5 separate regions of the Homo sapiens genome follow, and regions 2, 3, 4 and 5 are each reported to be linked to region 1. The links are microRNA targets in miRTarBase. Many come from high-throughput screens and were not tested one by one. Region 1 holds a microRNA gene; each other region holds the end of a gene's coding sequence. Distances are between the middles of the regions.

What was found. Region 1 holds the annotated microRNA hsa-miR-132-3p (UAACAGUCUACAGCCAUGGUCG, at 2,249-2,270, opposite strand). A microRNA usually pairs through its seed, bases 2 to 8, with sites in the 3' UTR of a target mRNA and lowers its output. Matches are read on the target gene's strand: a 7mer-m8 pairs with bases 2 to 8, a 7mer-A1 pairs with bases 2 to 7 and ends in A, and an 8mer does both.
Region 2: miRTarBase lists LOXL1 as a target of hsa-miR-132-3p. The part of its 3' UTR that is shown has no 7-base or 8-base seed match.
Region 3: the mRNA of RRS1 is a reported target of hsa-miR-132-3p. Seed matches in the 3' UTR shown: 7mer-m8 at 779-785.
Region 4: miRTarBase lists EMILIN3 as a target of hsa-miR-132-3p. The part of its 3' UTR that is shown has no 7-base or 8-base seed match.
Region 5: the mRNA of PSMD12 is a reported target of hsa-miR-132-3p. Seed matches in the 3' UTR shown: 8mer at 1,694-1,701.

The regions. Positions count from the first base shown.
Region 1 is chr17:2,047,681-2,053,684 of GRCh38, forward strand. MIR132 (microRNA 132) reads right to left here and starts at 2,328; the gene lies at 2,228-2,328. It overlaps MIR212 (microRNA 212), which reads right to left and starts at 2,700; the gene lies at 2,591-2,700. LOC124903896 (a long non-coding RNA gene) reads right to left here and starts at 2,269. Exons shown (of 2, transcript XR_007065576.1): 1 at 1,481-2,269; 2 at 1,027-1,078. RefSeq lists silencers at 2,024-2,823, 2,834-2,983, 5,987-6,004 and an enhancer at 3,529-4,424.
Region 2 is chr15:73,949,590-73,955,593 of GRCh38, forward strand. It overlaps LOXL1 (lysyl oxidase like 1), which reads left to right. Exons shown (of 7, transcript NM_005576.4): 7 at 2,242-2,547. The coding sequence ends at 2,248. Among named protein-coding and RNA genes, the nearest start is that of LOXL1-AS1, 24 kb to the left of the region's middle. RefSeq lists an enhancer at 2,942-3,625.
Region 3 is chr8:66,429,904-66,432,903 of GRCh38, forward strand. It overlaps RRS1 (regulator of ribosome synthesis 1), which reads left to right. Exons shown (of 1, transcript NM_015169.4): 1 at 1-830. The coding sequence ends at 326. ADHFE1 (alcohol dehydrogenase iron containing 1) reads left to right here and starts at 2,601. Exons shown (of 14, transcript NM_144650.3): 1 at 2,601-2,672. The coding sequence starts at 2,614. LOC102724687 (a long non-coding RNA gene) reads right to left here and starts at 2,463. Exons shown (of 5, transcript XR_929013.3): 1 at 2,381-2,463. RefSeq lists an enhancer at 629-678 and a silencer at 2,435-2,854.
Region 4 is chr20:41,357,604-41,363,607 of GRCh38, reverse strand. It overlaps EMILIN3 (elastin microfibril interfacer 3), which reads left to right. Exons shown (of 4, transcript NM_052846.2): 4 at 554-3,646. The coding sequence ends at 2,340. LPIN3 (lipin 3) reads right to left here. Exons shown (of 20, transcript NM_022896.3): 17 at 5,574-5,726; 18 at 5,257-5,371; 19 at 5,066-5,169; 20 at 3,026-4,886. The coding sequence ends at 4,742. Among named protein-coding and RNA genes, the nearest start is that of EMILIN3, 6.2 kb to the left of the region's middle. RefSeq lists enhancers at 4,338-4,945, 4,946-5,553.
Region 5 is chr17:67,336,483-67,342,486 of GRCh38, reverse strand. It overlaps PSMD12 (proteasome 26S subunit, non-ATPase 12), which reads left to right. Exons shown (of 11, transcript NM_002816.5): 10 at 224-301; 11 at 1,435-4,571. The coding sequence ends at 1,644. Among named protein-coding and RNA genes, the nearest start is that of PSMD12, 27 kb to the left of the region's middle.

The DNA of each region.
Region 1 (6,004 bases):
AGTGACCCTCCCGCTTCAGCCTCCTGAGTAGCTTAGCTGAGACTACAGGTGCCACCTATCACACTGGCTTTTTTTTTTTTAAGACATGGGGTCTCACTATGTTGCCCAGGCTGGTCTCGAATTTCTGGGCTCAAGCAGTCCTCCAGCCTCTGCCCCGCCCCGCAAAATGGTGTGATTACAGGCATGAGCCATGTCTCCCAGCCCTAAATAATGATTTTTTTTTTTTGAGACAGGGTCTCACTCTGTCATCCAGGCTGGAGTACAGTGGTGCAATCACAGCTCACTGCAGCCTCAACCTCCCAGCCTCAAGCAATCCTCCCACCTCAACTTCCCAAGTAGCTGGGACTACAGGTGTGCACAACTAATTTTCTTTCTTTTCTTTCCTTTCTTCTTTCCTTTCTTTCTTTTTTGTAGAGATGGGAGTCGCATTGTATTGCCCAGGCTGGTCTCGAACTCCTGGGCTCAAGAGATCCTCCCACCTATGCCTCCCAAAGTGCTGGGATTACAGGCGTGAGCCACTGTGCCCTGCCCTAAATGATTTCTAAGATGCTAAACAACCCTGACGTACGGTCAATCCTCTGGTTCTTTCCCCTCTGACCACATTCTGACCTCTTCTCAGAATATCCCAACCATTTCTGTTTTCCACCTCTGATTCCACCTTGGATTCCTAGAGCTCTTAGGAGAGAGAACCCCCTTAGCAAGGAACCTCTCAACAGCCCCAGGCCCAGAGTGAACCCGGGAGGCGGAGGTTGCAGTGAGCCGAGATAGTGCCACTGCACTCCAGCCTGGGCGACAGAGCGAGACTGTCTCAGAAGAAAAAAAATAAAAGTATATGTATGTATAACATATATATAATATAGATTATATATATATTAGACAATAAATATATATAGCCTAAAGCTCAAGGTGTACCCCCCACATCCCGTTCATTCTGCCTAAGTGCACAGAGCTGGGGTCCCCTCCCAACACCACCCCTTCACAAACATGTAGTAGCCTAACAGAATACTTAAGATCAAAATAACATTCTGCTGTTTTTGGATTTTTACTTACATGATCCTATTTAATCCTCACAGTGCACCTGCCGAGGAGAAGAGATTATTATCCCGTTTTACAGAAAGCTCAGAAACAGAATATGGCCCCTTAACCACCAGTTGCTGATAATGCCAGGTTGGACCTCTGGCTTCCCAGAGCACTACACCCAGCAGTCCACTGCAGTCCACCCACTGACATCCCCTGGAACCCAGAAGCAAGTGCGTTTTAATCTGCAAGACCTCGGGGCCCTGGGGAGGTGGGATGGCTAGCATGTGGGTGTTGATTAACTGGGAAACCGGCACGAGTGTCTTAGAAGTACTTCACAAAGGAGCCGGGTGGGGAGTGAAGGAGGGGGTGGGGCGTGAGACGTTAAGAAAAATTGGATTAACGTGTCGTGGGCTGGGTTGCATTAACCATTCCCAACACTATCTCTGGGGAAGTCTCACACCTGATATTCAATAGACATCCCCTGTAGTGGGTGATGTTGGCAGAGGCAGGCGACATATACAATAATATTTTTAGAGATCCTTGTTCACACTTCATCCGCACCAGAGGACTTCAGCCCCTGTGGTATTCACTCCTCTTTAGGGCTAATTTGAGAAACTGTCTCAGATTGGAATCCAGCACCTAGAGATAGGCTGAGGTGAGCAGGCTGATCTGTTCAGACGCTTCGCGGACCAGGTTAACTTTACAAGCTCATTGGCTTCCAGAGGGTTGGGGACCCTTCTTATCCTCCTAGCTCAGAGGGAAAGATTCAAGAGTTTACTCTTCGCCCAATGCCCACTTCAGCTAGGGGTTCCTGGAAGAACGGGGCTGTGGAGTATCTCAGAAAACTTTCCTCCCTCTACTGTCTTCAGGCCCCAGGAGACAAACCTCCTTCCAAGCCTCCTGGTCCCAGTGGCTTCCCTCTCACCGAAATCGAAAGAACCCGAGTCCCAGCCCGACCCCTTCTCTCGCCGAGCCCTGGCTGGGATACCTTGGCCGGGAGGACAGGACGGCCTCAGGCTGGCCGCCAGACGCACTCCGCAGGACGCGCGCGCTCGAGCCTCGGTGGACTCAGCCGCCGGCCCCGGGAGGCCGCCTCCCTGCGCAGCACCTCCTGCCACCCGCGCGGGCACGTGGGATCTTGACTCGCCGCCCCCGCCTCCTTCTGCTCCGCGTCCCCAGCCCGCGGCTCGGGGCGCGGCGTGGCGCGGCGCGTGGGCGTGCTGCGGGGCGACCATGGCTGTAGACTGTTACCTCCAGTTCCCACAGTAACAATCGAAAGCCACGGTTGCCCTGGAGACGCGGGGGCGGGGCGCGCGGACGGCGCCGGCGCGGGGCGGGCTGACGTCAGGGCCGCGGGGGGGCGGGCGGGGCGGCGGGGGCTGAGGAGCGCGCGTGGGCCACCGCCCCTCGCAGCCCCTAGGGACCCGGACGGGGCGGCCCGATGGCGGCGCCTGCGTTGATCAGCACCGCGGACAGCGGCGGCGCAGGCAGCGGGCCGGGGGCGGGGCCCTGAGGGACGGGGACTGGGGGTCCCCGGGCGCGGCGGCGGCGGCCGGGGCCGCGGTCCTGGGGCGGGGCCAGGCGTCGGTGGCCGTGACTGGAGACTGTTACTGAGGGCGGCCCGGGCAGTAAGCAGTCTAGAGCCAAGGTGCCGGCGCGCTGTCCGGGCGGGGTGCCCCGGTCGCCCCGGCTGCCCCGGCTGGGGGCTCTGCTGCTCCGCCTCCCCTGCGTCTCCCGCCCTGCCCCGCCCGGCGCTCGCGACCAGGCACGCGGCCCCTGACGTCAGAGGGCCGTGACGTCAAAGATGTCCCAGAGGGGGCACTTCCGGCGGGGGCGTGGGGGCGGGGCGGGACCTGGGAGGCCCCGCCCCCCCGGTCCTGAGAGGACAGCTCCGCTCGCAGAGGCGGGAAGCCGTGGGCGCCGCGGGACCCGCTGGACGGGACCTGCCGGGAAGGGGCGCCCGACGCCATGCGGGGCGGGGGTCCCAGGAGGGCCGGGGAAGCGGGGGTGGGCGTCCGTCTCTCGCCTGCACCCCCGCTCAGCCGGCCCGGGCAGCGAGGCTGAGTCACCGCGCCGCAGGGAGGGAGAGGAGGGGGCGCGTCTCCTGGGGCGCCAGCACCTTCGCCTCACTTTCCTGGGAGAATGGCGCAGGAGCCCCAAGAAAGCCGGGGGGGGGTCTCCGAGGTCGGTCCTCCACTCGATGCTCCTCCGAAGTAGCTGCGTGTCCATCGGGCGCCGGCAGGTGCTGCGCGGGCTCGTGTCGTCTCTGGCCCCGGCTCCGCAGCCGCGAGGGGACCCCGGTGCCCCCCGTCCGCCCCCATCCCCACCCCGGAGGGGCCGCCCCACCCGCCGCCTGCCCGTCCCCTCCTCGTCCTCCCGTCCGTGTCCGCACATCTGTCCCTCCGCGGCTGGTCCGTCCCGCTTACCTGGCGGGCCGCGTCGCCACTGCCCGGTCGCCTCCCGCAGCCTGGCCGGCGCGGCGGCTTTTATAGGCGCGCGTAGTACTCGTGCGGCGGCTCATTCATGCGGCCGCGGCTCCTACACACTGACGCGCTGCCGACGTCAGCGGGGAATTTAGGAAATGGGAAAAGGGGCTATTTATAGTGGCGAGGCGGGGGGTGGGGACCGAGGCGACCGGGAGGGGAGGAGGGGGCGCGGAAGCGGCGGCGGGGTAGGGGGAGCCGCGCCCCTGCCCAGCCGACAAGGGGTTAACTTTCCGGAACCGCGGGCCTGGGGCCGGGGAGGCGGCGCGGAGGGGCGCGGCGGGCCCTTCGAGCTTATTCACGCTCTCCTTCCGGAGCCCCGCGGCTCCTGGGGGTCTTCACGTGGCAGCCCCTTCCCCCTCCTCAGTTCCTGGACCTGACGTTTCTGCCGTCACACCCCGCAAGGCCACTGCGGTGTCGCCACCCTCTCGTCCTGCAGGGTGGGCAGGAGAGGAAGCTGGACTCCCGTGGGGGCCTGGGGCGCAGCGAGGGCTGTGGCGTCGGGGGCCGGGAGAAGAAGAGTAGGGGAGCCCAAAGTAGCCCAGGAGTCTTTAGCGGAGGAACCTGGGCCTGGGAGGGAAGGCCCAGCGGGGATTCAGGTACCACCCAGGAGCTGGAGACCCGAGGGACGGCAGAGAAGTTGGGGAAGGTGGGCCAACCTCCCCAGAAATGATGAGCAACGGGATCCTCTATGAGGGAGCTGGGGGAACGCGCCAGAGGTAGGGGTGAGAGGAATGGGCAGCCTCAGCAAGGGAGAGAGGAAAGGCTGTCAGTGCCACGCTCCAGAGCCTGGCATCCAGGACCCACCTTCGGACCATTTGTGGCACGATGGACGCTCCCAGAGCTCACGTTAGGGTAATAGAGAGTGAAGGAGACCAGCAGCTTGGCCAAGAGGGGCCCCCAGGGGATGAGGAGGACGGTTTCCTGGAGAAGTTAATGTTCCCGGAGACCAGAATTGGCAGGGAGAGCCCATGACTTGTGGGGCAGTTCCCCTGGTTGGGAGCGGGGAAATGCATGGTCCTGGCCCAGCCTGGCTCCATCGAGATGGAGGAAGGGTCTAAATGAGAGGAGTGTGTTCAGACGAGGAGCTGGACCAGGATGGGGAGGGCTGTGCAAGGCATGGCCGGAAGAGCGGGGCAGGGAGAGAAAGGTCGAAGAGTGAAGTGCACAGGAGGGCAAGGCGGTCCTCACCCTGCCTGGGCTGGGGCAGGGCTGTGAGACCCTCCCTTACAGAAGCAATGAGGGCTTGAGGAGGGGGTTAGGGGCCTGGGCTGGGGCAGGGCTGTGAGACCCTCCCTTACAGAAGCAATGAGGGCTTGAGGAGGGGGTTAGGGGCCTGGGCTGGGGCAGGGCTGTGAGACCCTCCCTTACAGAAGCAATGAGGGCTTGAGGATGGGGTTAGGGGCCTGGGCTGGGGCAGGGCTGTGAGACCCTCCCTTACAGAAGCAATGAGGGCTTGAGGAGGGGGTTAGGGGCCTGGGCTGGGGCAGGGCTGTGAGACCCTCCCTTACAGAAGCAATGAGGGCTTGAGGAGGGGGTTAGGGGCCTGGGCTGGGGCAGGGCTGTGAGACCCTCCCTTACAGAAGCAATGAGGGCTTGAGGAGGGGGTTAGGGGCCTGGGCTGGGGCAGGGCTGTGAGACCCTCCCTTACAGAAGCAATGAGGGCTTGAGGATGGGGTTAGGGGCCTGGGCTGGGGCAGGGCTGTGAGACCCTCCCTTACAGAAGCAATGAGGGCTTGAGGATGGGGTTAGGGGCCTGGGCTGGGGCAGGGCTGTGAGACCCTCCCTTACAGAAGCAATGAGGGCTTGAGGATGGGGTTAGGGGCCTGGGCTGGGGCAGGGCTGTGAGACCCTCCCTTACAGAAGCAATGAGGGCTTGAGGATGGGGTTAGGGGCAGTAAGTTAACTTGGGGAGCGGATGTGGGGGAACGCTGAAGAATAAAGACTGTGGGCACAGCAGACCCCTGGGGCAGGTTAGCAATGCACAGACTCCACTGCACAAGATACATGGGGCGGAGGGGCTCTTTGGAAGTCGGGGGTGGGGGATCTGACTCTATCAAAAAGAGAAAAGATAAAAGAGATGGGGTCAGAGAGGCCCTGCATAGTCTGGATTTGGCCTACTAGAGCTCCAGTTTTCTTGCCGCTAGCCTTTGTTCCAGGGATTCTGTTATTCACAAATGCCTTCCTGCTCGGTAGAAGAACTCCTATTCATCCGTCAAAGCCCAGCTCTAGGAGCACTTATGAGGAGCCTCTCCACCTCCCCTCAACACTCCGTAACTTCCACCTCAGGCCGCAGCACGTCCCTCGGGCGAGATGTCGGGGTCCGCCTTCCCTAGAGACCGGCAGCTCCGGAGGCCTCCGTTTTCCTCTTTGGGACCTCACTGCTTCTAAAGTGAGGATGCTATGGGGAGACATGGGAGAGGGAGTGGGTAAGATGGATCCAGAACATGGGGCGGACTCAGGCAGCGGCGGGAATCAGGCGGACTCGTTTGGACCGAAGC
Region 2 (6,004 bases), not on the chromosome of region 1:
CCACCCTTCCTGGCTCCGTCCCTTTCCTGCCTGGGGAGCAGGCAAGGCCACCTGAGATACCTAAGATACCTGCACTTTAGGTCACCTTGATGGCCGAACGCAGCTGCAGCAGGGCCCATCAAAAAGAGCCTTGTCCGTGCCAACCCCAAGCTGAGTGTTTACGGTGGGGCTCAGGCCGTAGGGTGTTGATCTGGGGCTGCATCCTGTGGCTCCCTGAGATGTCCCAAGTGAAAACCAGCAGAAGGCAGAGTCATTTGATGCAAGGCCATGAGCTCTGCAGTCCCAGTTCCACAGCTTCCTCGCTATGTGACATTGGGTTACTTCCCTGAGCTACTTTCCTCAACTATAAAATAGGTATTTCCACATAGGCTGGCAATGAGGATCTACAGGCCTGATGTCTGCATGTTCACAGTGGCACACAGTGAACAGCAGCTGTGATCATTAGTGTCCTTTTCAAGTGGACTGGATTAAACAGTCACAGATTAGAAGTGATTCTGGTTCAAAGGAGCCATCTTCAGTCCCTAGGCCCCCATTGTAGAAGAAGTGCCTAAAATCTGGGCTTGGGATTTTGGCACATGCTGCTGGGTAGGGTCCTCAGTCTTTCTCCTGATTCCCCATGTGAAGTAGTTTGCAGAGGGACCCCTTGCTTACAAGCTCACAAGGAAACCCCACCACACTCCAGATCGAAGCAACCCTTTTCCATTAAAAAAAAAAAAAAAAATTAGTCCTAGAGCTTTCAGCTTTAGTTCATCAACTGGGAGAAAGGTGGTAGAGATCTTAAGGCCCAGAGAGGTATCTTTCCCTAAAAGTGTGTACTTATTAATGGATGGCAGGTATGAGAGATTAAGCCTATGACTATGGTCAGGGTGTGGTGTATGGCCAGGGTCAGGATTCAGTCTGTGACAAGGGTTAGGGCTCAGTGTGTGACAAGGGTTAGGACTCAATGTGTGACCAGGATCAAGGCTCAGTGTGTGACCAGGATCAGGGTTCAGTGTATACCTAGGGTCAGGGCCCAGTGTGTGACCAGGGTCAGGGCTCAGTCTGTGACCAGAGTCAGGGCCCAGTGTGTAGCCAGGCTCAGGGCTCAGTGTGTGACCAGGATCAGGGCTCAGTGTGTGACCAGGATCAGGGCTTAGTGTGTGGCCAGGGTCAGGGCTCAGTCTGTGACCAGAGCCAGGCTCATTTAGAGACAGCCCTCTCACACTTGGTTGCTACCATCAACCTAACTGTTCACAGCATGCTGCCACCACATCATGAATATTAAAAATGGGAACAGCAGCCTCCAGTTCAGTGCAGAGATTAGGTTCCTCATGAGTAGAATGAGATCAGAATTCCCCAGGGCACACAGCATGTTTGAAAGGACGAACTCCTGTCCCATCACTGGCAGTTTGGCTCTTTAGCAGGCCTGGGTTTCCAGCACATTCCTGCTCCTCAGGGCCTGTCTTAGCCATTCAAGACCCAGGGTCACCTAAGTGGTAGAAGCCATTCTAGGGAAGGAGGAGGAAGGAAGAAGGGGGTATCCAGGAAACAAAGGAGGCTGCTGGGGGCTCGGGGAGGCAGGGAATCCCTCCTGCTGCTGGGAAAGGGGGATGGGAACAGAAACAGCATCCCACGTGCCAGGCGCCTGGAGCAGCCAGGAGGGCTGTCGGCAGGGCAGATGGAGAAGCAGCCTGCGCGGCCCTCCCAGCTCCCCGGGGGCCTGTGGGCAGCAGGGGGAGCCAAAGCCCTTCCTTCCAAGAGCTCTTTACATAAGTGCTTGGAAAGGCCGGGCCTTATTAGAGTGTCTCAGTCTCTGTGACCCTGACCGCAGGCAGGCAGCTGGGCCAGCGTGCACAGGAAGCTGGACAGAGCGTTCCCAGAAAGGCCACGGGACTGACGCCTGTGGGTTTCCATCGTGTTTCTGGAGGAAAAAGGAGGCTTAAAAAAAAAAAAGTACTGAGTTAGAAAAAACAAGAAAGTATTTCCAGACAGTAGCAGCTCTGCTAATGGCCTAGAAAACAATCTGGGACTAGGGCATGGGGAGGGGAATGTGCTGAGACTGTGCCCTGGGTGGGTGGGAGTCCATCAAACCCCTCCTTTTGGAGCTGGGCTGAGGGGGTCGGAACTTTCTCTTGAGGGAAATGTAGGCCCATGCCTGCCCTGCCACGAGGGATCTGGGCTGTGGGAGGGACGCCCTGGCTGAGGAGGCCACGGGGGCCTACTTTGCAGCCCCTCATTGACCCACTGTCTTTCCTTCCTCAGATCCTGATCTCCGGGAGGGACAGATGGCCAATCTCTCCCCTTCCAAAGCAGGCCCTGCTCCCCGGGCAGCCTCCCGCCGAGGGGCCCAGCCCCCAACCCACAGGCACGGAGGGGCATCCCTCCCTGCCGGCCTCAGGGAGCGAACGTGGATGAAAACCACAGGGATTCCGGACGCCAGACCCCATTTTATACTTCACTTTTCTCTACAGTGTTGTTTTGTTGTTGTTGGTTTTTATTTTTTATACTTTGGCCATACCACAGAGCTAGATTGCCCAGGTCTGGGCTGAATAAAACAAGGTTTTTCTACTCTGTGGCTCTGCATGCGGCCTGCTGGCTGGCTGGCCAGCCACAGCTAGTTTGGGCCTGGGGGATGTCCTTAGGCATCATCCTTCCCCTCGCCAAATGTGGAAAGGGCAGCCACCACCCGGTCAGGACCACAGTGACCATGAGGGCGCTGAGCCCATCGTGGAAGCCTGTGGGGTTGAGCCCTTGGCCAAGCCTGTCGCATGGGAATGGGACCACATCCGACTAGGGGAGGGCCCTGCAGCGGGGTGGGCGGCACCAGCCTGCTCTCCCTGCTCAGCCCCTGCTCCTATCTGGGCTCGTGTGCCCACTGCTGCCCCTTCTCAGCCTTCAGCCTCACACTCCCACCGGTCCCCCTCCTGGCCCTCTCACTCTCACACCGTTCACTCTCCACCAGCCACCCACTCCCTTACAATTGCAGGCTCCCGAACTCAAGTCTCCTGAAGGCCAGGTGCTGTGCTAGGGCACACGCAGGAGCATCGTAGCTTCTGCCCTCAGGGAGCGCATAACCACAGGGAACGGGGAGCACGCGTTGCCCAGTGAGGCAGCACCTAGGGGTTCTGGGGAGCCTTCACATGGGAGAGAGCCTCCTTCCAGGCAGGGAGGGGAGAAGAGGATTCTTGGCAGAGAGACAGCATTGAGCAGAGATCATGAGGTGGGGCTGCAGGCCGACAGGGTGTGAGTGGGAGATGGAGGGAGGCCCCGCAGCCCTGCAGCCCCCGTCCCCTGCCCTGGCTGTGGCATCCCAGAGGTCCTGGACACTGGAATGGACCAGGAAGAAGTGAGAGGGTGGTGCCTCTCCTCCTCGAGGCCCTGAACAACGAGCCCTCGGGATGCCTCCAGACCCACCTGCTTCCCTGTGGGGGCAACACCAGTGAGAAAGGGAAAGAGACTTTGTCCAAGTACCAGGGCTCTGGGTTCCAGGGCCAATCCTGCTCACTGCTGTGTGACTGTGGGCAAGTCAGACTTCATCTCCGGGCCTCAGTTTCCTCATGAGTAAGATGGGAATGCCCTCCTGCCTGGCTCCCACACTGACATGGAGAGTTGATGAGCTACTGCTGCAGGGGAGGTGCCGGGGGAGCTACAGGGTGTCAGCACCCACCCCTCCAGATCTTGGTGAGCCCCAGCCCATTTGCAGAGGTCCTCCAAGAAGGTGTCCCCTGCTTTTGGCTCTGATGCGATCCTTGCCTCAGGGTCCCTGGTAGCAAGGAGGTTTTCTGGTGCAGTAGAGAGGGAGGGCTTCTTGGAGCCATGCTATGCATCCAGGAGGGTTCTGGCCCAGTCCCCTGGAGCCCTTGGGCCACTCACCAGCCCAGGCAGCAGGGTGGAGTGGGTGTGGCTGCAGCCCTCCCTCGGCCCTTCCTCTGCAGGTCTGGCTGGGATTTAACTCTGCTGACAGGGTAGGTGCCGCAGCTCTGCCACTCTCCCTCTGGAGCTGGACCAGGACGGGTGAGAGGAGTACAGGCACATGCCTGTCATCCAGGGCTGCCATTCTGCTGCATCCCCTGCCGGTGTGTGCTTCCCAAGATGCTGTCCTTATTGCAGCCCCACCCCCTCTCCTTCCTAGATACTCCCAGGAGTGAGCTTGGGAGGGGGTCAGACAAGGTCAACCAATTCCAGACTGTCAGGAGGCCCGTATGAGGTAGAGACAAAAGCCCCCATTTCTCAGGTCAGAAAACTGAAGCCTGTCTGAGACCACAGGCAAGTTCAAGGCAGACACAGTGCTGGAGCTCACGTCTCTAAGCCCTAGGCCAGGGCCAAATGCCGGGTGTGTGCAGTTTTCTGGGGAGATCTGTACCCTCAGCAGATGAGCTATGGCCCTGAACACAGAATTGGATGGAAGGAGAGAGTAAGGGTGGCTTTTCCAAAAAGCCCACACATCACAAAGTGTGGGGAGGTGGGGAGCACACAAGGAGACTCCCAGACACAGTGCTCCCGCGTGCCCATGAACCTTTGGCCTGAAGTTCAGATTCTAGGGGGGCTGGTGGATGTCCCCAAGCCTGCCATCAGAGTGAGGACACCTGGGCCAGTCCTCACATGCTGGGAGGACTCTGAGATTAGATCTCTGGGGAGGGGCTTCAGATACCCCTTTGCCCCCCAAAAAGCAGAGGAGGCTTTCACCCAAAGGAGAAGAGAGATAGAGAGAGAAGAGAGAAGACAGCCGTGACGCGCAGGGACCAGGGCAGCCCTCACCGCTTCCTGGCTGACCTGTCAGGGCCCTATCAGTGCAGCTTCACGGCACTGCCCAGCAGTGACGGCCCCTCGGGAAAGGAGATGCAGCTGCTCCCACCTCAGGGGGCAGGGTTTCCTCAGGTATTTTGACTCCATGTAGAATGGCAGAGTCTCCCTGAGAATGGGGAGAGAAAAACTGTCAAGACGGCAGGGGCCCAGCAGGCGCTGAGCTGAGGAGGGCGGCTGGGAGAGGAGTGCTCTCCCAGCTCGGCCTCAGCCTCTTGAGGTCTGTCTGGCTGTCACTGCATGGAGGAACAGCCTGCTTGTTCCTTGTTCTTGCTGTCACCTGGCTCGGGCCCCTCCCTAGATAGAGCTCACCTGTTGGGCTCACCCCACCAAGCCAGGCCCAGGGAGGGGTGTGTGAGGCCCACTGGAGGCCAGGTCACGTGACGCAGGGACTCAGGCCCACTGGTCCCTTCACCCTTCCGTTTGCCCCTTCAAGGCCAGCTGAAACCCCGATTTCTCGAAGCCTTCCTTAACCATCCCCTCTCCCCTTCAACTGGGGTGCACTGTGTGGCCTCATTCAGGACTCTCCCACCCCCACCCTGCCACGGACACACAGGGGCATGGGAGGAGGCACCCGAGCCTTGCATGCTGGACAAAGGTTACATAGGTGCCATCTCAGCCAGGTGCAGTGGCTCACGCCTGTAATTCCAGCGCTGTGGGAGGTCGAGGCGGGCAGATCACTTGGGGTCAGGAGTTCGAGACCAACTGGCCAACACGGCAAAACCCCATCTCTGCTAAAAATACAAAAATTAGCCAGGCATGGTGGCACGCGCCTGTAATCCCAGCTATTCGGGAGGCTGAGGCAGGAGAATCGCTTGAACCCAGGAGGCGAAGGTTGCAGTGAGCCAAGATTGTGCCACTGCACTCCAGCCTGGGCGATAGAGTAAGACTCTACCTCAAAAAAAAAAAAAAAAGAAAAGCAAAACAACAACAACAAAAAAACCATAGGTGCCATCTTCACTCCTGACCCAGCACCTCCTTCTGGGCTGCACAGACCAAGAGGGTCTCTGCTGGTACACTGGGCACTGGTGTGCAGGAATCCACCTGGGCTGTAAGGGCCTCAAGTCACCTGCCCAGCATCCCTCCCTGTCCTCTTCTTGCTCAGCCCCAGGGCTGGGGAGCTCACTGCTTCTCGAGACATTTGCTGTTAGAAACACCTTGAGGTGAAACAGACCCCCACCCCCTGCCCCGCAGCCTTCCCTTGGGCTGGTCCTCGGGGTCT
Region 3 (3,000 bases), not on the chromosome of region 1:
TCGGGGACTTTGCAGCCGAGAAAAAGAACCAGTTGGAGCTGCTTCGTGTCATGAACAGCAAGAAGCCTCAGCTGGATGTGACTAGGGCCACCAATAAGCAGATGAGGGAGGAGGACCAGGAGGAGGCCGCCAAGAGGAGGAAAATGAGCCAGAAGGGCAAGAGAAAGGGAGGCCGGCAGGGGCCTGGGGGCAAGAGGAAAGGGGGCCCGCCCAGCCAGGGAGGGAAGAGGAAAGGGGGCTTGGGAGGCAAGATGAATTCTGGGCCGCCTGGCTTGGGTGGCAAGAGAAAAGGAGGACAGCGCCCAGGAGGAAAGAGGAGGAAGTAATAGTTTCTAACTGTCGGACCCGTCTGTAAACCAAGGACTATGAATACTAAATGTTAAGTTCTAGGCAATTATACGGGGACTCAGAAGGACCTGGCCGCTGCCTTCATTGAGTTTAAAGGGACAGGATTGCCCTTCCGTCAAGAAAGTATGTAAGTGTTGGACTGCACAAATTAATGTTTTTCCCACAACCGAGACTTTGGAGATTAAGAACTTATTTGAGGATTTAAGAATTAGGGAAATAATTTGGTGGAAACCGGGAATGAGTTCTATTCTTAAACAGCCTTTTTTTTTCTTTTTAATGTTGGATATACGGCGAGGTAGAGTTGGCCATATTTCAGAGACTTAGATTGACGTATATGTTTCTGCATTATTTTTACAACAAGTTTGTGTATCAGAGCGGGAGTGCGGGGGAGGGAAAGAAAACAAACAGTTTCAGAATTGAATAGGCAAGTGACTGTTTTAAAGATTAAGTAATAAAGATGTCTTATCTAGTGTGACTTTTAACTTTCTGACTACTGGGTAGAAATTGTACTTGAAGCCGGTTACCTGGATACCTGGTACAGATTATTTTTGTTTACTTTCTGAAAAACACAAAGCAGGCCGTGCGCAGTGGCTCACTCCTGTAGAGTCCCAGTACTTTGGGAGGCCGGGGCGGGCGGATCACCTGAGGTCAGGAGTTCGCGACCAGCCTGGCCAACACAGTGAAACCCCATCTCTACTAAAAATAAAAAAATTAGCCAGACACGGTGGCTGGTACCTGTAGTCCCAGCTACTTGGGAGGCTGAGGCAGGAGTATCGTTTGAACCTGGGAGGCGGAGGTTGCAGTGAGCCCAGATCACGCCACTGCACTCCACTCCAGCCTGGGCAACAGAGGAAGGGGCCATCTCAAAAAAAAAAAGCAGTTCAATTATAATGGTTTCAGTGATACCACTTCTAAACTTATACTTCTTTTGGTATCAAATATAATATTCAAAGTAGTAAAACTGATGTCTGTTTTTTAAAAAGATTTTATGCCTTTCAACACTGAACACATGGATTTCCTGTAAATGATCAATTTGGGCTTCATTGACTAATGGTAATAATCCTCATTAATCCAGAAAACACTTAAATCTTTCTCTACGTTTATATCCCCAGTTGTTTGTGTGTGTGTGTTTGTTTTTAAGCTTGACGTCAGGTATAGTTTTGTTTGGGGGAAGAAAGAAACAGACCCATAAGATCCTTAATTAGGACATTATTATCTTTTTTTAAGTTCCGGAGTAGATGTGCAGGATGTGCATGTTTGTTACATAGGTAAACGTGTGCTGTGGTGGCTTGCTGCACCTATCAACCCATCACCTAAGTATTAAGTCCCTCTGCCCCCTTCTATCCCCTGCCCCCAGGCCCCAATGTGTGTTGTTCCCCTCCCTGTGTACATGTGTTCTCATAGAACATTATTTTTTGATTCATTTGTCAAGTTGGCCTGAGCTGGTTTGATTAGGAGGTGAAATGTTTATATAGCTGTCCTTGGTCTTCCTGTCCATCAATCTTTTCCAGTTTGATCGCAGTAAATTCATTTCTGTAAAACTTAATATCTCCCATAAAGGATTCAGATTTCATAATAACAGATTACTAAAAATGCAAATGTTTAGTTGTTACTGTCTTTGGATACTTTCTGATAAAGTTGAGCTTTATCGTTAATCAGCTTTTCCACTGGGACATGGCAGATATGGCACAGCCAAGCCCTCCCGGAGCATAGTCTAATCATGGCAAGTTTTAACTATTGATGTAAGAGTTTTAACTATTGATTTTGCTTTCATCAAAAGCAAAGCCATTCACACAGTATTTAACAAAAACCCTCGGGCTCTGCTAGGTTCTTGTTTACTGTTAAAACAGTTTAAAGGCAGGGTCTTGATCACTTAAAATACTCTTAGAAGGGAAAGTAACATTTTAAAGGATTAACAGTGGAAAAAGAATATCCCTGTTCCTCTTCCTTCCCCCAAGTCCTCAACATGTGAAAAATAGAGTTGATAAGTAAGGAGATTTAAGGCAGAACCCGAGGCCTACGGAGCAGTTACCTTCTACGGCAATTTCAAGGGTGGATGGTGCGAGCGCCGCTGGGGCAGCTGGCGTTCTGGTTCTTACTCCGTGGGAAAATGGCCCTGAGCCCGACTGGCTTGAGGCTTAGACAGGTGACCCCGCGAAGCGGGTGGGCAGGCGCGGCCGAGGGGCGGGAGGCGGGCAGCCTCCGTGATTGGCCGGCGGAGGGGGCGGTGTAGCGACCCGAGGAGGGAAGAGGACTCCAAGCGCCATGGCCGCTGCCGCCCGAGCCCGGGTCGCGTACTTGCTGAGGCAACTGCAACGCGCAGCGTGAGTGCGGGGCCGGCGGGCGGGCAGGGGACCGCAGGGTGCCCACGCAGCCCCCTGGGTGTGACCCGCTCAGATCCTGCGCAGTCTTCTCCGCTTACTTTCAAGAATTCGGAGAATTTGGATACCGCCCTGGGCTCCCACCGCGCGCCAGGCGGAACAGCGAGGTCACAGAGTGCGCGATGCAGCCTCTCAGGGCGCAGTGAGGCAGCCTTTACTCTGCTTGTCTACCGTTAAAGAAACTGAGGCCCAGAGAGGACCTGGTCCCACATCGTAGCAGGCAGTGGAGAGCTTGGCACGGTGGCCAAGACAAATTCATGTATGCAATTGA
Region 4 (6,004 bases), not on the chromosome of region 1:
GATTGGGTTTCTTGGGCTCAGTGGCAGGGGCAGGGAGGGGACTGATCCCAGGCTGGCTGAGCTCCGGCATGGATGGGGAGGGGCAAGCCCCAAGCCCCACTTTCACCCCACCATAAAGCTGAGGGAGTTATGCCCAGTGAGAAGGTAGGCTTAGAACAGAAAGTCTGGGCTGGGCGCGGTGGCTCATGCCTGTAATCCCAGCACTTTGGGAGGCCGAGGCGGGTGGATCACGAGGTTAGGAGATCGAGACCATCCTGGCTAACATCGTGAAACCCCATCTCTACTAAAGATAGAAAAAAAATAGCCGGGCGTGGTGGTGGGTGCCTGTAGTCCCAGCTGCTTGGGAGGCTGAGGCAGGAGAATGGCATGAACCCGGAAGGCGGAGCTTGCAGTGAGCCAAGAGCACACCACTGCACTCCAGCCTGGGCGACTGAGCAAGACTCTGTCTCAAAAAAAAAAAAAAAGAACAGAAAGTCTCTTGGGTGGCCTGGCATTGTGACAAGCTGAGAGGGTGAGGCCAGTGATGCCCCTGGGGCTCTCTTCTCTTTCCCAGGAAGGAAAGGCCCAGGGCTGTTTGGTGAGCGGCTGGAACGCCTGGAGGGTGATGTCCAGCGCCTGGCTCAAACATATGGTACCCTCAGTGGCCTGGTGGCTAGCCACGAGGATCCCAACAGGATGACTGGTGGCCCCAGGGCTCCTGCTGTCCCTGTGGGCTTTGGGGTCATCCCTGAGGGGCTTGTGGGCCCAGGAGACAGAGCCAGAGGGCCACTAACACCTCCCTTAGACGAGATCCTAAGCAAGGTGACAGAGGTGAGCAACACTCTTCAGACCAAGGTGCAGCTTCTAGACAAGGTGCATGGGCTGGCACTTGGCCATGAGGCCCACCTGCAGCGGCTGCGGGAAGCCCCACCATCCCCGCTCACCTCCCTGGCCCTGCTGGAGGAGTACGTGGACCGACGGCTGCACCGACTCTGGGGGAGCCTGCTGGATGGCTTTGAGCAGAAGCTGCAAGGCGTCCAGAGTGAGTGTGACCTGCGGGTGCAGGAGGTACGGCGGCAATGTGAGGAGGGTCAGGCCGCCAGCCGGAGGCTGCACCAGAGCCTTGATGGCCGGGAGCTGGCCCTGCGCCAGGAGCTGTCACAGCTGGGCAGCCAGCTGCAGGGCCTGAGCGTGTCTGGCAGGGGCAGCTGCTGTGGGCAACTAGCCTTGATCAATGCCCGTATGGATGGCCTTGAGAGGGCCCTGCAGGCAGTCACCGAGACCCAAAGGGGCCCCGGTGCCCCGGCCGGGGATGAGCTTACGAGGCTCTCTGCTGCCATGCTCGAGGGAGGTGTGGACGGGCTGCTTGAGGGTCTGGAGACGCTCAATGGGACAGAGGGTGGAGCAAGGGGATGCTGTCTGAGGTTGGACATGGGGGGGTGGGGAGTGGGCGGCTTTGGGACCATGCTGGAAGAGCGCGTGCAGAGCCTCGAGGAGCGCCTAGCAACATTGGCTGGGGAGCTAAGCCATGACAGCGCCTCTCCGGGCAGGTCAGCTCGGCCCCTTGTACAGACAGAGCTGGCTGTGCTAGAGCAACGGTTGGTCTCACTGGAGACTTCGTGCACCCCGAGCACCACCTCAGCCATCCTGGACAGCCTCGTGGCAGAGGTGAAGGCCTGGCAGAGCCGGAGCGAGGCCCTCCTACGCCAGGTGGCCAGCCACGCAGCACTGCTCCAGCAGCTCAATGGCACTGTGGCCGAGGTCCAGGGACAGCTGGCAGAAGGGACGGGCAGCTCACTTCAAGGCGAGATCACTCTGCTCAAGGTCAATCTGAACTCAGTGAGCAAGTCGCTCACAGGCCTCAGTGACTCTGTCAGCCAGTACTCTGATGCCTTCTTGGCTGCCAACACGTCCCTGGATGAGCGGGAACGCAAGGTGGAAGCCGAAGTCCAGGCCATCCAGGAGCAGGTCAGCAGCCAAGGCTCCAGGCTTCAGGCTGGCCACAGGCAGGTCCTGAACCTGCGTGGGGAGCTGGAGCAACTCAAGGCTGGTGTGGCCAAGGTGGCCAGTGGGCTGAGCCGCTGCCAGGACACAGCCCAGAAACTTCAGCACACAGTGGGACACTTTGACCAGCGGGTGGCACAAGTGGAGGGTGCGTGCAGGAGGCTGGGCCTGCTGGCCGCGGGCCTGGACAGCTTGCCCACTGAGCCACTGAGGCCCAGAGAGGGCCTGTGGAGCCATGTGGACCAGCTGAATCGTACGCTGGCCCAGCACACGCAGGACATTGCCCGCCTCCGGGATGACCTACTGGACTGCCAGGCCCAGCTGGCTGAGCAGGTGCGGCCAGGGCAAGCCAACTAGACAGGCTGGCCAGGACCCAACCCCTAGATCCCACCAACTCGGGGAACATCACCCCAGAGCCCAGCCTTATCCAGCAGCGCCTTCCAGCCTTCCCTGGCTAGCCCAAATGGCACTAAGGAGGCCACTGAGGGAATCCTCCACGTGGCTGTCCCAGCCACCAAAACCCATGCACAGTGCTGCAGAAACTGGACAGTTCCGGACAGCGGTCAAGGCAAGGATGTCATGCTTGAAGGCCAGGGTAGACTTGAGAGAGTTCACATTCCACTGTCAGCAAATCAGTGTCTGGACAGCCAGCTGCAGGGCCTGAGCATGGCTGGCAGGGGCAGCTGCTGTGGCAAACTGGCCTTGATCAGTGTCCGTATGTAAGGCCTTGAGAGGACCCTGCAGGCAGTCAGCACCAGCCTCAGCAACTGTGCAGAGACCTACAGGCCCACAGCCAGTGGCCTGTCCGCATTGCCCTGTGCCCACAAGCAACAGTCCACAGCCCTTGGTGGCTTCTGTTCCTTGTCCCCTCGGCTTCTCTTCGCAGCCATCAGGACTAGGTTTGTGCAGGAAGGTGATGCCCACTGGAACTCTCCTCACACCTGGCAGCTTCATGGATGTTGTATCTGAACTAAGGACCAGAGGCTGCCAGATGTTTCTGGCTCCTCACGTGTCCTTCAGGACAGAACAGAAGCACAAAGACTCAGCCAAGAGTTCTCTTTATTCCCTTTGATCCTCCCCCAAGGTGAGGGCTTAGGCAGCTGTAGAACCCCAGGAAAGAACGGAATCCAGGCAATCTGTTTAGAGACCCCCCACTCCAAATTTATCCTTTTCCTTTCCTTCCCCTAAGATGTTTCCAGGGCCCTCTGGTGCCCACACTGTCCTCTTCCTTCCACTTGGGGGTGGGGAAATCCTTCCTGCGAGGTCAGGGCATTTCTCTACAAAGTGGCCTGAATGAGGCCAGGCCCTGAGAAGGAGCCACCAGCTGGAGGAAAGGGGCTCCAAGCCTTGCTTTTAACACCCCTGCAAAACCCCCACCCTCCCAAGATGTTCACAAAAGGTGAGAAATTCAGGTACGAAACCATCAATGGACAACTTGAAAATGCATGTTCCTCAGGCCTATGCAGTTCCCAGAGACTCTTGACACCGGTCTCTGCTGAGGCTCCCAGCCTCAGTTTCCCCCACAGCAGCACGGGCCCCACTGTGCTGCTCTTCAGGTCCCCACAGCCCTGCCTTTGGTTCCTGGACATTTGGTATTCTGCCCTCCACTCTGGTACTATCAGAGTAGGGCAGGCTCTGGATTAAAGCTTTTAGCCGGTCTAAAGCTACTTTCTTCAAAGACAGTGGGAGGAGAGGTTGCTGGGGCATCAGCCCTGCTTCCCACAGCTCCTTAGGCAAGAGCTTACCCAGCAGCTGTGAGCACCAAGCTGGCCAGCAGAGGCTGGGGGAGGACTTTCAGGCCAACACCTGCCCCAGCTGAGTTTGGGACTGTCCTTAAGCGAGGTCTGGAGAGAGGCAGCGGCAGCAGCCGGACGGGGAGCAGGCCAAGCCGGAACCACAGCCTGCAGGTGTGGGTGTGTGTCATGTGCTGAGATGCCAGGGCACCAGCAAGGGGGATATGTTGGCAGTGATGTCTGGCTTCGGAGGGTACAGTCCTGGCTCCCAGACAAGGGGCGGGGAGAACACTGTGTCCTTCCAGAGGCTGTACCACACTCCCACTGCTGTCACCCTTCACTGAAGCCTCGAGCCTCGGTAGGGCCTCCCTCTTCTCCCTGTCCTATCAAGACTTACAGCAAGGTCCCAGGTTGACAGGGAGACAGATATCAAGGGCATAGAAAACCCTGCAAGGAGGCCTGGCATGGTAGCTCATGCCTGTAATCCCAGCACTTTGGGAGGCCGAGGTGGGCAAATCACTTGAGGTCAGGAGTTCGAGACCAGCCTGGCCAATGTGGTGAAAACCCATCTCTACTAAAAACACGAAAATTAGCCAGGCGTGGTGGTACACGCCTGTAATCCCAGCTACTTGGGAGGCTGAGGCAGGTGAATCGCTTGAACCCGGGAGGCGGAGGTTGCAGTGAGCCGAGAGATCATGCCACTGCACTCCAGCCTGGGCAACAGAACAAGACCCTGTCTCAGGAAAAAAAAAAAAAAAAAAAAAAAAAGAACCCTGCAAGGGCCCAGATGACAAGCTAATTGCCCCAGGACAGTGCCACACTGACGCCTGGAGCAGCTGCAGCTTAGCTGGCAAAAATATGACGGGGAAGATGGGGGAGTCTCTCTAGCTGCCAACCAACCTGCAGCCTCCTCCTTCCCCTTCAGTGGGTTTGCCCCATGACACTCCAATTCCCACCCTCCTATACCCCAGGACACCTAGCCAGTCCTGGGCCGGGCCAGGGAGGAGGAGCCAGCCAGGGCAGGTTCAGTCCAGGGTATCAAGGTCCACAGCAGGCAGTGGCTCCCGCCAGTAGCAGAAGTTACTGTATTCAGGGTTGGCCAGGTCTGTGCTGGGGCCACGGGCCACAGGTGGGAAGAGGAGCTCGACCACTTCACCAAGCCGCTCATACCTACAGGCAGAAGGGGGCCAGCACTGAGCCTGAGCTGCCACCAAACGATGGCCTTGGCCATGGGTCTGTCCCAGAGTAAGGGACAGACTCCCCGGTAAGAGGTAAAATTGGGGCCCAGGGAGAAGCCAGGGCAGGGGGACGTGGTAGGGCATGGGGAACATGGCAGGGTTTAGCCTCACGTGGATTTGTGGTTCTTTATGAGCTCCTGGATGAGCTCTCCCCGGGGGTTGACTGTGAAGATGCGTGACTCAGGCAGGCCCACCTGCCGGTAGGCAAAGACATCCTGTGGGAGACAGGAGGGGCCCATGGAATGGAGGCCTGCAGGCAGCTGGGGAGAGGTGGCTCAGCAGAGTGGAGGGGACACACTCACATTGGGCCTATTCCCAAAGGCAGCATAGAAGGGCTGTCCGTGGGGCAGAAACAGCTGCTGGATGTCACTCAGGCAGGCGACCTTGAACACCTCTGGTTTCTTCTCGATCACCTCTCTGGGGTGGCCAGAACCACAGCAGGGAAGGGGGCCAAAGTAGGGAAGAAGCCAGAGGGGATGGCAGGCTCAGGTGATGGGGGGTCTGACCCCACCCTCCTTGCCACCTGAGAGCTTAATGCCAGCCTGCTAAGGCTGGCCTGGCAGTGGGCCTGCCTTTCCCCACCAGGGGGCCACGGGCTTGTATGTGTAGGGGTGGTTACCTGTGGAGGGCAGAGAAGAGGCTGCTGGGAGACAGAAGGATGGGGCCCTTGGGGAGGCTACAGCCCCCCTCGCTCACCCACTGCAGGTACCCCTTGGTGAGGTCCGCCATGCCAATGGCCCGCGCCGAGCAGTACAGGAACTTGTACCCATTTCTGAGAGTGGGGGACAGGGTGGCATAGAGCCATCAGAGACCAGCCAGCCCCCATCTGTTTCTCTGGCTTTAGCCTGCCCAGCCCAACTGTGGGACTCTGATGTTCCAACCTTTGCAGGGAGGGGACTTGAAGAGAACGGCCAGGCAGTGGACTCAGCTGGACGGTGCACAGAGTCCTGAGGCCTGGGTGGACCAGGATGGAGAGGGCCTCCCCTCCGGCTGCAGGCCAGTAGGTGGGCCCTGATCCTAGAACACAGCCCCAGGGGATGAGCCTTTCCC
Region 5 (6,004 bases), 65 Mb from region 1:
GAATATTCATAGTAATTCAGAATAACTACAGAAACCAAAATATCTAAGTATTTAGTTTTGTTATTGAAACTTAGAACTAGCTTTGCTCCAGTGATGGACTGTAGAAAAATAAAAGCTCTGAGTCTAACATTTTAAGTAAACTTACTTGGATATGAAAATAAATGGACTTTTAGACTTACTGACAAATGTTACGTGTTCTCCCTGCTCTCTATCCTCTCCCCAGAATATTAGAATAATGGCCAAGTATTATACTCGGATAACAATGAAAAGGATGGCACAGCTTCTGGATCTATCTGTTGATGTAAGTAGTAATCAACTTTGAGTTATTTGTAGGCATTCCTTTTGAATGTTGACTTGTAAAAATTGAGTAAGAAAATCAATGTTATGATTTAATTTTATGTTTAGGTAATAGAGTAATAGTTTCCCAAGCAATCTTGAGTACCAAAAACTAACTTAAGTATCAAGTGATCCTAGGTCTTGTTGGAACAGTGTTGTCTTTAGGTCCATGTTTCTATGTTGACAAAATGCATAGCACACAAAGAGGAGTTAACCCAAGTGTGTAGTAATGGCCTGAAAGCCATTTCTGTCCCCAGAAGGATCTGTGACAGTTTAGGTGGTAAGACTCATGGAACATTAGAGTTGGAAGGTTTGTTCCTTGATCAGCTTGTCAGCTCTTGTCACTTATGAATGAGAGTACCAGAGTCCTTAGAAGTCAAGTGTCTTGTCCGTGGTACATACTTGCCAAGTAGCAGAGCATATATTCTAACCCAGCATTTCTGGAAACAAATTAACTGTACCATACTGCCTTTTAAGGGGAAACTTTGTAGAAAAGGGAGTAGACCAACTTGCCGTTGGCATGGATACCAGCAGTATTGAGCTTGCAAGGAGGCAGATTCAAACTCACCCCTGACTGAGTCTACTCAGATTCTATTCATTCCCTAGACTATCAGTAAAATAAGTACTTATTATAGGAAGTCAGCAGTTGCTAACTCTTTTTTTTTTTTTTTTTTTTTTTTTGAGGCAGAGTCTCACCTTGTCGCCCAGGTGGGAGTGCATTGGTGCGATCTCAGCTCACTTCAACCTCTACCTCCCAGGGTTCAGGCGATTCTCCTGCCTCAGCCTCCTGAGTAGCTGGGACTACAGGCGTGTGCCACCATGCCTGGCTAATTTTGGTATTTTTAGTAGAGATGGGGTTTCACCATGTTGCTCAGGCTGGTCTTGAACTCCTGACCTCAAGTGATTCACCCAATTCAGCCTCCCAAAGTGCTGGGATTACAGGTGTGAGCCACCACACCCAGCTGAGTGTTACTAACTCTTAAGAATGAATTCCCCTGCATATTCTTGGATGAAGAGTTCAGAAAATGCTTTTCTGAAGTTTTGTTTATTGTCTGTAATTTATCCTGTCTTAATCCAATTTATCTTTCTCTCTTGCAGGAGTCCGAAGCCTTTCTCTCAAATCTAGTAGTTAACAAGACCATCTTTGCTAAAGTAGACAGATTAGCAGGAATTATCAACTTCCAGAGACCCAAGGATCCAAATAATTTATTAAATGACTGGTCTCAGAAACTGAACTCATTAATGTCTCTGGTTAACAAAACTACGCATCTCATAGCCAAAGAGGAGATGATACATAATCTACAATAAGGGTCTTAGTGCTTTAGAAAAAAGTTAAAATTGGAAGTCATTAAAAAAAGACTGTTATAATGGTGTATATGTTGGGGTTTTTTTTCTAAGCTTCTTTGTCTTAAATTTTAAAATAGTGAATATGTTTGAGACTCCCTTTGACCTTTCAGTTCCCCAAGTTCATTGTTAACTTTGCATTTGCAATTGGTGCAAAAATACAGATTTCTGTCGTCTGAATACACAAAAAGTTGTGTCATAACTTACCCAGATATGTTTTTCTATCATTTGAAACCTTTTTAGCTACTGTTTGTTTTCATTCAACTAACAAACATATTCCAATAATAAAAGCAGTATATACATATTTCCTTTCTACAGTTACCTCTGATTCTCAACATTTTGTGGGGTAGTGATTTGGCAAGTGTTTTTTAAATAAAACAAATCTCATTGTAAAGCTATCAGTCATTTAGTAGAATAGAAAAGCAACATAGAGCATACAAGAACATTTGGGATAGAGTTGTGATTTGTGAAGAATTTGTACTTTGATATTGTGGCGGAAAGTCTAGACTGAGTGTGTATGCTGGTAAACTGTAGACTTTTTTTTTTTTTTTTTTGAGTCCGGCTGGTTCCAATCACAGTAGCTTGATTGCTTTCAGCCCTCATCCTCTCACTTGATCAGTTGTTCAACAGAATCAGCTGACATAATTGACACAGTTTATTGGGTGTTAAGTCCGCTCTATAGGGATAGTGACTACTTTTTTTTTTTTTTTTTTTTTGCTCTTCTTCCTCTCCCCTTTCTTTATATGGGTTTAAATTTAACATAAAGTTGTTTTTATAAGGCTTATTTGTGGCTTTAACTTGTAAGTCTGATTACATCATTATTGTTCCAAATTCATTATCTCTGTAGGAACTTTTAGTTCCATTATATGAACACTGGATAACCTAATTTTTTTTAATGCTTTAAAAAAATGGCAAAAAGACGTCAGGCCACCCTCATAGTAAGTGGTGTAGTATTAAAATATTTTCACGGAATTAAAAGTAGCTTGCTGTCAAAGAAACACCTGAGATGAATTGGTGTGAACGAATTTTGCAAGTTTAATTTGATTTATTTCAGAGAAAATAGAAAAAACAATGTTAGAAGGTTATTTAAAATGATACTTAAATAAAGAAAGTGTGAGGTCTACTTTAAAAAAATTCAAATGAAGAGAAAAAGAAAAACAGCATTCTAGAAATGGCATTTCTCCTAATTAATTTTCCACTTAATGGAAGATTATCAATTGTCCTATTTTATGATCCCAGGACTGAAGACAGTTGTGGGATATCTGTCATATTTATCCTGTGAGTCATTGTGAATAATGACATACAGTACTGAAGTAATCTGATTTTATTCTTTGGAAATTCAATGCATTGGTCACACTAATAACATCAACATCTGCTATCACTTATCTTTTTAAAACTAACCAAAAAAGGCCGGGTGCAGTGGATCCCAGCACTTTGGGAGGCCAAGGCGGGTGGATCATCTAAGGTCAGGATTTCGAGACTAGCCTGGCCAACATGGCAAAACCCTGTCTCTACTAAAAAAAATACAAAAATTTGCCGGGCGTGGTGGCGTGTGCCTGTAGTCCCAGTTACTTGGGAGGCTGAGGTGGGAGAATTCCTTGAAGCCAGGAGGCGGAGGTTGCAGTGAGCCAAGATCACACCATTGCACTCCAGCCTGGGTGACAGAGTGAGACTCCGTCTCAAAAAAAAAAAAACAAAACTGGAAAGTTCAGAAACAGAAGTTCACACTAACAGAGTATGGTTTTAATTTTCCTTTGAATGAAAAGGATAGAAGATAAAATTGTGTATTGTTAACATGTAAATAAAATTGGAGCTAATTTGAAACTAGCTTCTCAATAACTTCATCTTTCTAGAGACTCATTACCTGTGGGCTTGTCAAACCTGGACTATTTGGCCAAATAGGTTGCTATAGAGATTGCAAGTGTTCCTCCTCTTTATTTTTTTCATATTTTTTGAGACGGAGTTTCACTCTTGTTGCCCAGGCTGGATTGCAGTGTCACGATCTCGGCTCACTGCAACCTTTGCCTCCCATATTCAAGCAGTTCTCCTGCCTCAACCTCCCAAGTAGCTGGGATTATAGGCGCCTGCCACCACACCTAGCTAATTTTTGTGTTTTTAGTAGAGATGGTTTCATCATGTTGGCCGGGCTGGTCTCAAACTCCTGACCTCAGGTGATCCACCCGCCTTGGCTGCCCAAAGTGCTGGGATTACAGGCATGAGCCACTGCACCCAACTCCTCTTTCGTCTTTCTTTAACACACACTAGGCTCTTTGTGTATTATGATTCAGTGCTATTTGTAACTGTGTCCCAGTGACCAAATTGCACTCGACTCGATCAGCTGTTCATCCATTTCGTGTTTTTTCCTGTCAAACATTAATCCAGCAAATATATGAGGTATTTACCAATTTATTTTCTTAGTATTACAAAATAATTCATTAGCATAAAGTACAATAGTGAAATATTTGAGTTGTTCGGAACCTCAATTAATCCTGTTTTACATTTCAGACCTAAAGCTGGCAATCAGGAGAAGAAGCACTTTGTTTTAAATGTGGAGAAGATAACACTTGATTCCATTTCATTGTCATTAGTGTATTAACCAGCAGGAGAGGTGATGAGCCATTTTTCAAATGAAATACCTTTTATTTCCATATAATTTTTTTATTTTAGAGTTCAATAGCTGTTTCTATGATTATCCTCAATTTCCATATGTTACTGAATCTGAAAAACATCTTTAAAATTCAAACAGTTCCATTTTCTCTCTTGTAAGTGTTAAATGTGATAAAAGTACATATTTTAAATTGTTTTCAGCTCTTGGATATAGCAGCAATAAAAACACTAATTTGTGGGTATTTAAGAAAACCTGGAGAATAAACTCATACTTTAAAAGATCACTTCTCTTTTCAGTTCTCATTGTCTGAAACAAAAAGCCATAATTTTCATTTTTACCCCAAATCATCTCTCTCTAAACCTACTTTTTTGTTTTGTCTTTTAAGACTTTATTATATTTTTAGAGCAATTTTAGATTCACAGCAAAAGTAAGTGGAAGGTACAGAAATTTCCCATATCCTCCTTGCTCTCACACCTCCCTCATTGTCAACATCCCCCACAGAGTGGCACATTTTTTACAGCTAATGAACCTGTTTTGACACCATTATCACCCAAAGTCCGTAGTTTACGGTTCATTCTTGTACATTCTGTGTGTTTGGACAAATGTATAATGGCATGTATCCACCATTATACTACCATAATACTTCACCGCCCCACAGTTCTCTGCCAGTTCATATCTTCCTGCAAATCCCCTGACAATTGTGAGTCTACGGTTTCCATAGTTTTTCCCTTTTTCAGAATGTCATATAGTTGGAATCACAGTAGGTAGCCTTTTTTTTTAGATCGGCTTCTTTCACTTAGTAATACGCATTTCCATTTCCTCCACATCTTTTCATGGCTTGATAGCTTATTTCTCTTTAGTGCTGAGTAATATTCCATTGTCTGGTTGTACCACAGTTTATCCATTCAGCTCCTGAGGGACACCTTGCTTATACATTTTGGCAATTACAAATAAAACTAAACATCTGTGTGCAGGTTTTTGTGTGGACCAAGTTTTCAAATCCTTTGGATGAATCTGAACCTGCCTTTTAAGCGGTGACAAAACACCTTGCACATGTTTCGAAAGCCAGCTGACGGACTTTGCCCCTCCTAAACTCCCGATTTGGGGTTGGTGGCTTAGGCCGTGCTTTATTGGGCACCTGACAAGTGGTTCTTCATCTCAAGGCCCATCAGAATATGCGCGGGGCTTGTTACACACAGATGCTGGGCTCCACCCCCAGATTCACACTCAGTCGGGATGGAGCGGGGCCCACGAATTTTAATTTCTAACAAGTTCTCAGTACCCGAACTACTGGTCCATGGACCGCACTTTGAGAACCACTCTTCTTGACAACATGGGTAGTAAGGACTAGAAAAGAACTGAAATGTGTTGGTGTTTTAGATGTTTAGGGGAAAAAAACATGGATATCAGTTAAGGTACATGTGGCGGTAAAGCTACAGCGAGATGCTCATCCGGAGCCCGTTGTTTTAGGAGTTTAGTGGTTTGAAAGTCTGCTTCCATACTGCCTTCTGTGATGCAGAGAAATGGTCTTGGCATTTTTGAGAGGATATTAAACAATTTTCCTAACTTAGAGCTTTATTTTTTTTTATTTTTTATTGTTTTTATTTTTTGAGACGGAGTCTCGCTCTGTTGCCCAGGCTGGAGTGCGGTGGCGCAACCTCGGCTCACTGCAAGCTCCGCCTCCCAGGTTCACGCCATTCTCCTGCCTCAGCCTTC